Linked DNA regions of Homo sapiens: region 1 is linked to region 2. Evidence: fine-mapped expression QTL. A gene starts in region 2. The other region holds a variant in brackets. All regions are shown on one strand. Distances are from middle to middle.

Region 1 (5,000 bases), 60 kb after region 2:
AAGTTTGACCAGCCAGTGCTGTGCACACATCTGCCCATCTTCAAGGGAACGGTTCTGATTTTCTCACCCACCTTCAGCAATGGAAACACACATTGTCCGGGAGGAACCAATCAGGCGTGGCTCCTGCGGCTCATGGAGGATAGCTTAATAGAGCACAGGGGCTCTGTGCTGTGTTGTGGGAAAGCAGACAGACTCATAATAAGGCCCTCCTTTTTCCTTTGCATTTTAGTAATAGAGATGATTTTCCTTTTTGTTGATGTTGCTGCTAACCACAGGAAACCATCTTCATCGGTACTCCAAGGTTCTGGAGGCCCATTTGGGAGACCCAAAACCTCGGCCTCTACCAGCCTGTCCACGCTTGTCTTGGGCCAAGCCACAGCCTTTAAACGAGACGGCGCCCAGGTTAGTGTCCGCCTGTGCCCTTCCACTCTTTCCACGGGGCTTGTGAGTCATTGCTTTTCTTATAGGAGAGAATGGAATTTTACTGACATCACTATCGAATTGTCAGATCTTCAAGCTTGTCATTTGCGACAGTTATTTAGTGAACCTCGTATTGGCCTTTGGAAATAGGCTCTTTGGTGGTATCCTGCATAAAAAGTGCTTTGGATAATTAGCATTTTGTTACATTTGGTTAATTCTTTTTTAAAAAGCTGGGATCCAACAGAGTGATTTCATGGGAGCTGGAGCTCTAAGTCCTGTGGTTGGGGAGTTAAGAGCTGCCGGCTGCAGTGTGTTCCCTGTTTCAGACATTGATGATAAGATACAGATAGTTCCCTTCTTCTGTCATCCCCGGGGGCCGCGGTTGCAGCCTGTCCAAGAAGAGCATGCTTCTGTGTCATTACGTCCTGTGCTGACTGTGACTGGGGGTGAAAGCACCCGCCTCCGATGGCAGGCTGTGACCTCTGCTGCTGTCTCCACACTCCTGTTTGCAGTGCCGCCTGGATCCCTTCTCCAGCTCACTAACTCGGCTTCTTCATTTGCATCGTTTCCTTTCCGTACCCAGTGTTTGAGGTGGACCTGCTGTTTCCCTCTGTGGCTAGGACCAGCTCGGCATGGCTGGTCCCCTTTTTCTCCAGATGCCACCCCCTTACTTTTTCTGTGACGTCCCTGGCCCAAACAGGACAATATAAGAAGAAAGGGGGAGCTTCTCCTGAGAAAGGGGATGAAGCCAGGGACAGCTGTCAGAGCTGTGTCCGTGGCCGGGCAGGCACACCTCCCACCCCATCAAGCAGGAGTCTTGCCCTCCGAGGCCCCCTGGCCGCCTGGTACCCGGCCCCTCTCCCCAGCCCCTCAGGCAGGAGGCTACCCTCTTGACAGGCCCCCTGCCTGCCTTCTTTTCCTCCAGTGATGGTATGGGGCCAGGGACGGAGGCCACCTTCCGTCCTGTAAGGCGAAGAGGAGAGTGCCCGTGTGAAGGTGGCGAGGCTGCCTTCCGCCTTTACTCCTCATCATAAACCGAAAGTGCTGAACACACCACGCACTGACCGTATGTCTTCATTTCGAATATGCTTAATAGAACACAGGAAAATGGTAGAATCATCACATTGTCTCATCAGTAGCTTTCTTCCTGAACCTTAATCACTGGGTACTTTTCCATTCCAGTTCACATCTCATCATTTAAACATTTCTGATAAGTTTCCATTTTTGCATCTTATTTATTTATAACCTTCTATTAGCCTAGCATTCAAACCAGCATTTATATTCCAGCCATGGTCAGCAATTCATACTCAGTGAACAGTGTTAGCTGAATTTCCAGAAACCCAATTATTCTCCACAGTGTTGTTCAGGACTTGAAGCAGATAACAATATCCTTTCTATCCTTGGCTATCTACCTGTTCACATCAAATAATCCATCACATACTGAACCGGCCCATCCAGCATGTTGATAATGGACAGCTCCTGGAATTTGATTTTCACAATCACTCAGTAATTCCTTCTTCTCAGTACGCTGCTGGGTTTTACATTTATCTTGCTTTTCATATCTTGTTGAAAATTATTCTCGGTCCCCAGAGACCTAGATCGACGCATATTCTGAGTCTCCAAAAGAGATTTGAGACCAGGAGACAGCTCCAGATGCTGTCAGCCCAGTGCTGGGGGCAGGCTTCCATCTGTGAAGTGGAGAGGCGCTTTGGGCTTCTT[C/T]GTTGGCATCAGGTGCCCATACCTAGGGCAGCTGTGGAAGTGTCAGCGTCCTCCCTGAGAGGAACTCCTGCTCCGGTGGCTCCTCAGTCCTTCCGTCAGTATGCTGTAAAGCACCCACATGGTAATGGGTGTGGACTGTTACCATGACTGCTCCACTAGAAAGTGCCATCACCAAAGAATGAGATTCTGGAACAGGATATCACTGTTAGAATGGAAATATAGCCCATAGATATTCAGCTACAAAGTCATAAAGCCTAAATGTCATTGATTCCGTAACTTAACACTGTCAGTTTAACTTTCAGACTGATTAAGCCTGAAGTGTAAAATTAAATCCTATAAAATAGGGCGGGTTATAATGAGTGCTCATTGGCATTCAGGCAGTTGCCGAGCTGGGAGTATCGAGTGGGAGTCTCTCTCTTGCCTGCCTAGGGAACCTCTACTCAGACCAGCCCTTGCCCGCCAGCTTGGCGTTGACTTTCAGCCTAATTGCTGATAGGACTGGACGTCTTTGCTTTCACTTGCCCAAAGTGAAAGAGACAGGCTGACAGTTTCCAAATGAATAAATAACAGAAAAATAGAGAAATTTTAATTTGCAAACTTACTGTATTCTTCCCCCTCACTTAAGCCAGAGTAGTGTTTTTCCCATCGCGCTCTTCGCTCTAGCTCCGGTGTCCTCCCAAGCTCTGTGCTGCTGTTGCCAGCGTATCAACCTCTCTGTCTTCTTCGGGTCTAAGTTGTATTGGCCTGAACGAGTTTTTCAGATCCCAGAGTTAATAATGATACTGTGCACCACAGAGTGCAGGAATCGCACACGTTCATTTGATCGTCCCCCGCCTGCAGGCAAGGCAGATGGGGACCCCACGTTTTGCTGCTCAGACTCTCTCCCACTGTTGGTTCCTTGTATGTTTCGTATTCTCCCTGGAGACAGTGGTTTCTTCAGAGACAAAGATGCTGTCTGGTTCCCGGCACCAGTTTGCCCACTTCCTTATATGCAGTGGTTCTGGAATCACCATTGCCTCCGACTGCTCCAGGCCTTAGGGAGAGGACCTCGATAGCCCCAGGCTCAGGTCCACTCAGCAGGCTTCAGCTCCTCCCCCTGACAGGCTCCTTCCAGGGCCTCGCTTGGAGTGTCCTCCCGAGGCGCTTGGTCATGTTTAGCTTTATGCAAAAACAGGCTCCTGCTGGTCATATTGTAAACTCAGTAGAATCTCATGAACAGGGACTTGATTTTGATCTTTCTCCCTCGGGACGTGGAAACGGCCACCATAGTTGCTGTCAGTGGCATTTAGGTGGCCGTGGACGCAAATGGCATTTCACATCTCCCCGTAGATCACTTGCTCTGTCTTGAGTTTCAGTTGAACTTCCTAGACTAGTACCTAGACTAGTACAATGGCTTATTTTTGTTTTGTTTTAATCCATTTTCCTGAAGTAACCTTTGGAAACATCAGAAGCTACTCTCCATTGACCTGGACAAGGTGGTGTTACCCAACTTTCGATCGAATCGCCCTCAAGTGAGGCCCTTGTCCCCTGGAGAGAGCGGCGCCTGGGACATTCCTGGAGGTGAGTTCTCGGCTGCTTTGTGATTGTGCTCAGTCATCCTGTATTTTGTTCAAAGGAGTCTCCCTCCCTCCCCAGGAGGCGGGCCAGACTCTCCCTGTCTCTGCCTTCCTGGGAGCTGTGGTGGCCTTGGCTCTTGGCTTCTTTTGTGGCACAAACCAGCATGAGCAAGGGCAGGCCTGACAGATTAAGAGATTGTTGTTTCCCTTAGAAAATGCTACCTAGATTTTCACATTTGAATTTATTTTACAACGGCTGGGTGATCTACTTAAACATGTTCAAAGTAACTTGCACGCTCTTTATGAAAGTTCTGCCAGCCACCTATTAACGTCCCTTACAGGATGCCTGTCTGCTGGTTTGGGTCCCAGCCAATGGCAGCAGCCGCCCTGGCTCCCAGCCCTCAGCCCAGAAGGCCCCTTCAGTTCTCTGCCCTGCCCCCCTGGGAGGGACTTGACTGAGCTGGGGTGTGTCCCTTAGGTGGTCTCATCCTGTCTGTCTCTCCAGGGATCCTGACTGGCTACATAGACTGCCTAGGGCAGGTTCTTCTCCACTACCCAAGGCAATTGGTACCAGGCCTTTCCAGCCGAGCCTGGGCAGTTCTTTTGCTCTAGAGTCCCCTGTACTCTTCCAAAGAGTTTATAGCTACCAAGAGGAGTTTCTCTGGGTTCCAGGAATTGTCCAGAAATGGGATCAGGAAGGGGCACCCCTGTCTGTGCAGTCCAGCCCTGGACACCACGTGGTGGTGCCAGGGTCCTGAGGGCCTTGCGCATAGGTCACGGGGTGCGCTGAAGGTAAATTCCAGAGCCCTTGGCCTTGCCCAGTCGTATTGACATTCTGAACCAGGGTCCTCTGATGGCCTCTCCTGGCTTTCAGCCACACGTCCCCTCCATGAAGGGCTTTCCCAGAGGCGGGGCACTGCCAGCGGTGCTTCTTCCGCCACGCCCCCTTTCTCCTCCTCCCACTCAGCTGGAACCACAGGCCCCTCCTTCTCCCCTGGATAGAGACGTGCCCATCTTCCCTTGTGTTTAGAGAAACACAGAGCGCCTCTGGGCCTCCCTTCGGTAGGTTGTGACAGAAGCATAGCTGGGCCTGATCATCCGTCTGCGGGGATCCCAGGGAGGAAGGGCAGCAGAGATCCACCGAGCCTCCACCCCACAGGAAGTGGCTGCTCTTTGCTCTCATCCACTCTTTATTAATAGCCTGGGTTACTTTAGCTAAGGCTTAAAAATGATGTATGCCCTGCAAGCCCAGCTAGTGAAATTAGCTCGCATTTAGTTTCTGATGAATCCAGCCGTCATAGAAAA
Region 2 (5,000 bases):
CATGAGAGGTCTCAGGTGGCAGAGCTCCAGCACCAGGAGCATGAAGTTGTCCTTGAAAAAGCCACTGACACCTGAGATGTGCTGGTGGGCGAGGCTGCAGTGAGTATAGCGAGAGGCTGGAGACGTCTCCAGGGACGTCTCCTCTGGGTGCGGATTGAGCAGCAGTGACTCAGGTGCGATCTTGCCCGAGAACACCTCCTTGGTGTTTGCCTCCAAGATTTTGATGCTCTCAGCAAAGCCACCCTTGCCAAAAAAGCAGCCTGCCTGTAGTGCCACCGGCAGGTTTACTAGGACCTCCAAGATCTCTGCAGAGTGGCTGCTGGGACTCCAGGAGCCACAACTCCAGGGAGGCTTTCCCAGGGTTGGCTAGTGCCTGTGCCATCAGCTATTACTCTTTAAAATAACATTTCATTTGAATAAAGATTTACCTTCCCATGGAATTACAGATGCTTTATTCTGTATGTGAAGCACAAGTTTAGGAAGTTATTTTAGAACCAGAGTGGTGGGAATCCACCAGTGGTAGACCAGGATCCTGTAGCTCAGGCTGTCTTGGTAGCTCTCCAAGTAACTTCTCTCCCACACACCAGTCCCCTCAGTGTATAGGCATTCTCTGAAACTGGTGGTGGTGGCATTCTCTCCCCTTCTTTGGGGCCTCGCTGTCACATGATGGATGCCTGCAATCACTGTTCTACCCCAGTTTCCAGCTGTAGGGCCATGTATTCAATGGCATAGTGACTAAAGGGCTGTTCAGAGAACCCTGACCAAGATTAATTTACCTAAAGTTGGAACAGAAGGACATAGTCAAGTTTAAAATCAAATGCTTTGTGTGGTGGCAGAAGGGAGTGCCTTTGACGGTTTGCAAATGCAGAGAGGCAAGGATTCTCCAAAAGTTCAGAAAATCGTATGAGATCTGAGTCAGGAAAGGATTCAAGAATCCACCACCACATATTGAATCATATAGGAGCCGAGCACTTTATGAGTATGCTTTTTGTTTGTTTTTGAGACAAGGTCTTGCTGTGTTGCCCAGGCTGGAGTGCAGTGGCACAATCATGGCTCACTGCAGCCTCGACCTCCTGGGCTCAGGCAGTCCTCCCACCTCAGCCTCCCTAGTAGCTGGGACTGCAGGTGCACACCACCACACCTGGTAAAAACAAAACCAAACACAACTATAGAGACATGTCTCTGTTGCCCAGACTAGTCTCAAACTCCTGGGCTCAAGTGATCCTCCCGCCACAGACTCCCAAAGTGTTGAGATTACAGGCATAAGCCACTGCGCTAGGGCTTATGTGTGTACTTAATTTAACCCTCATCCTTTAAGGTAGATATTAGTACCCCTATTTTTTAAAAAAATTATTTATTTATTTTTAAGGCAGAGTCTCGCTCTGTCGCCCAAGCTGGAGTGCAGTGGTACGATCTCAGCTCACTGCAACCTCCGCCTCCCAGGTTCAAGCGATTCTCTGCCTCAGCCTCCTGAGTTGCTGGGATTACAGTCATGCGCTACCACACTCAGCTAAGTTTTTATATTTTTGGTAGAGCCGGCGTTTCACCCATGTTGACCAGGCTGGTCTGAAACTTCTGACCTCAAGTGATCCGGCTGCCTCGGCCTCCCCAAGTGCTGGGATTACAGGCGCGAGCCACCCCGCCTGGCTAGTACCCCTATTTTTGTAATGAAGAAGCTGAGGTACAAAGAGGTTAAACAACCTGCTCAAAATTACGAAGTAGAAGCCTGAGGTGGGGTATGGTAATTTGTGATTCTACATTTATCCACCATATTAAGTCAACTGTGTTAAATCATGTTGAAGGAAGATGATGCGCTGTGATCTGTAATATTGGTGCAGTTCAGCATTACCGTGGTGCAGTGTCAAGTTCCAAAAGACACAAAACTGTCTGATCGGCCTGTAGCGCATCACCGCCCACCAGCAGTACCTGAAGACGCTTTCAGTCCCCTGCTAGTGCCGTACGGAGTCCGGGCTGGTCCATTTACATTGAAAACAAACTGATCCTAGCATCTAAGTCACCCAGACATCTTTTAGGCGGCAAGCTTTTCAGACAGTTTAACACATTTATTCTTGTTTTTTCAAAAAGAGCAAACACGTGGCGTTACAAAGGTCCTCCGTTTCGCACGCACCGGTGTCCCGGCAGCGCGCTGCGCGTCGGGAGGCCCAGTCTGTCGTCCCGTGGGGCCGGGGGTCAGGAGGTCGGGCAGGCGGGATTTGGGGTTTCGCGTGTTCCGGACCGGACACTTCGCCATCTTAACGAGCTACCGCCCGGGTTAAGGGGCACCCAGGGCAGGTGCCCGGCCGGGGGTGGGGTGTCCGAGCCGCCGGTGCCTGGACGTGGACCCCTGCAGGAAGGGTCCGCGCGGGAAGCGAGCTCTCCACGAGTCCATGACAGCAGGCCCGCGGGGGCAGGGAGCCTGCGCCAGGCAGTCTTTCTAGATCCTGGCCCAGCCTGGCCGCTTTCGCGCCCGTGCTCCTTTTCGGGGATCCTAGAGCGACGCGCAGAGCGGACCAAGGGTTCCCCCAGCGCGTTCTCGCCGCCTGGCAGCTCGCTGGCCACGCCCCTCCGCTTCCACCCTGCCACCGGCCCCCGCCGCCGCAAATGTCGCGAGACCTTCGTCCATCCTCCCGGCGTGGTCCCGCTGCCCACGGCGTCCAGAGCGCGCACGCAAGCCCCGGGAGCGCGGGACAGACAGGGCACGCTGGGTCGGCGGAGCTGAGGCTCCCAGCTGTGGGCCTCGCTGGCCCGGTCGCCCAGTCTCGCGAGAGTTGGGAGTAAACAGCCCCGAATGGAGTGCCCAGGCGTGTTCGCCGCGGAGGCGCCGTTATCCCGGGCCCGCCGGCCCTGAGCTCCCGGCGGCGCAGGTACGTCAGCCGCCCGCGCGCGGCCTCCCCGACCCGCTCCGCCTAGCGGCGGCGGCCCGCTCGCTCAGGTGTGCCGGTTGCGTCCGAGGCCCCGAGGCGAGGGCTGCGGGGGCCGGGCCGGGTCGGGGGAGGTGGGCGCGGGGCCTCCGGCGCTTGTTTGGACACAGCGTGCCTGTACCGCGGCCCTGCGGGGGTCTGCGCGCTCCGGCAGCTTGTTCCGTTGCCTGGTTTTCTTTACGTGAAATGAGCATTCACCGAGTGAAACAATACGCCCTGCTCTGGCCCGGAGCCTCCAGACAGACTCAATTCTAGGTGCGCTTCCGGGGCAGTGCTGGCGTCAGGTTTAAAAGACGTCGATTCTTTGCCTTATCTCGGTCTGTGCATATTGCGCTGCTGGTTTTTGGAAATGCGGGGATTCTGTTCGGCGAACTCTCAGAACCAGATTGCCTTTTAAACCTGTAGCTTCTTAAAAATCTTGCCTCGCCTTGGCATGGTTGCGCTACCTAAGACCGTTGTGGATCGTCAGTATTTTTATTAAGATGTTTACCTTTCATATTGGGTTGAGCCCCTGAGAATCTTGGCCTATTTGTCTACACAAATTAAGTTATTAGATTCTGATTGACACTTCGAAATTACGTGGAGTGGAATACGACCTGCGTTGAATTCTGGAGACTCATCCTTTAGTCTGAACTGTGTAGGTAAGCCCTCCTAACGTCAAGGTCTCCAATTGTATGTCTACGAAAAGGAGGGCTTGCAGAAGAGAAGTAATTCCTCTCATTTTTTTTTTTTTCAATCTGGAGAATCCGCTTTTATTATTTATACTTATTTTTTAATGTAAGAGCTTCATTGAAGTAGAATTTACATACCATAAAATCCACCTGTTTTAAGTGTACTATTCAGTGGTTTTTAGTAAATTTACAGCAGCACAGCCACTACCAAATCCACTTTTAGAACATTTCCGTTACCCCAAGACCTCTGATGCCCAGTTGTAGTCAATGCCCATTTCCAGGCCCCGCCACAGGCAACCTTTCATCTACTTTGTCTTTCTAGATTTGCCTTTAATGACTATTTCGTATATTCAGATGGAAACATATGATATGCGGCCTTTTGTGTCAGGCTTCTTTCACTTAGCATGTTTTCACAGTTCATCCATGTTGTAGCATGAATCAGGATTTCATTCCTTTTATGACCAAATAATATTCAGTTGTATGGCTATACCACATTTTGTTTAAGCATTTATGCAGAACACTTTTGACAAATAAAAGTTTATTTTATGCTCTAATGTGTGATGCGGATGACAGCAAAACTGTTGATTGAGAATGGGAGCTGGGACCTGACCCAGACACGTGTCAAACGACTGCACTCCCCAGGCACCCCGTATAATCAAGAGTTGGTCCTTTCTATATAAAAAGGGAAAATTCCAATGCAGAGCTTGCGGAACCTTTGAAGCACCTAGGGAAGAAGTGGGAGCTCTTCTAGTCAGGAGGTTAACAAGAACTAGGAAGGCTGGGCCGGGCGCGGTGGCTCACGCCTGTAATCCCACAATTTGGGAGGCCGAGGCGGGCGGATCACAAGGTCAGGTGTTCAAGACCAGCCTGGCCAACGTGGTGAAATCCCGTCTCTACTGAAAATACAAAAATTAGCTGGGCGCAATGGCAGGCGCCTGTAATCCCAGCTACTCGGGAGGCTGAGGCAGGAGAATCCCTTGAACCCAGGCGGCAGAGGTTGTAGTGAGCCAAGATCACGCCGCTGCATTCCAGCCTGGGCGACAGAGTGAGACTATGTCTCAAAAAACAAAAAACAAAAAAAAACTTGGAAGACTGAAGGCTAAGGTGAACTGTACATTGCTGCCATCAGTGCTGCGGAATTCTGCTTGAGGAAACGCTTTATTTATTTTTATTTTTTTGAGACAGAGTCTCGCTCTGTCGCCCAGGCTGGAGTGCAGTGGTGGATCTCGGCTCACTGCAACTTCTGCCTCCCGGGTTCAAGCGATTCTCCTGCCTCAGCCTCCCGAGTAGCCGGGACTGCAGGTGCCCGCCACCACACCCGGCTAATTTTTGTATTTTTAGTAGAGACGGGTTTTTACCATGTTGGTCAGGCTGGTTTCAGACTCCTTGACCTCATGATCCGCCCGCG

Evidence for each region. PIP is the estimated chance that this variant, and not a neighbour inherited with it, causes the effect.
Region 1: its variant is fine-mapped to the expression of MBTPS1 in blood mononuclear cells (TOPMed, PIP above 0.99).

The regions. Positions count from the first base shown.
Region 1 is chr16:84,054,704-84,059,703 of GRCh38, reverse strand. MBTPS1 (membrane bound transcription factor peptidase, site 1) reads left to right here. Exons shown (of 23, transcript NM_003791.4): 21 at 276-402; 22 at 3,569-3,699. Among named protein-coding and RNA genes, the nearest start is that of SLC38A8, 14 kb to the right of the region's middle. RefSeq lists enhancers at 3,278-3,870, 3,871-4,464. The variant C/T (reference allele first, on the strand shown) is at 2,140.
Region 2 is chr16:84,114,599-84,119,598 of GRCh38, reverse strand. It overlaps MBTPS1 (membrane bound transcription factor peptidase, site 1), which reads left to right and starts at 2,657. Exons shown (of 23, transcript NM_003791.4): 1 at 2,657-2,864. MBTPS1-DT (MBTPS1 divergent transcript) reads right to left here and starts at 2,556. Exons shown (of 1, transcript NR_186375.1): 1 at 436-2,556. It also overlaps the pseudogene LOC648774. RefSeq lists an enhancer at 1,927-2,086 and silencers at 2,237-2,336, 2,737-3,166.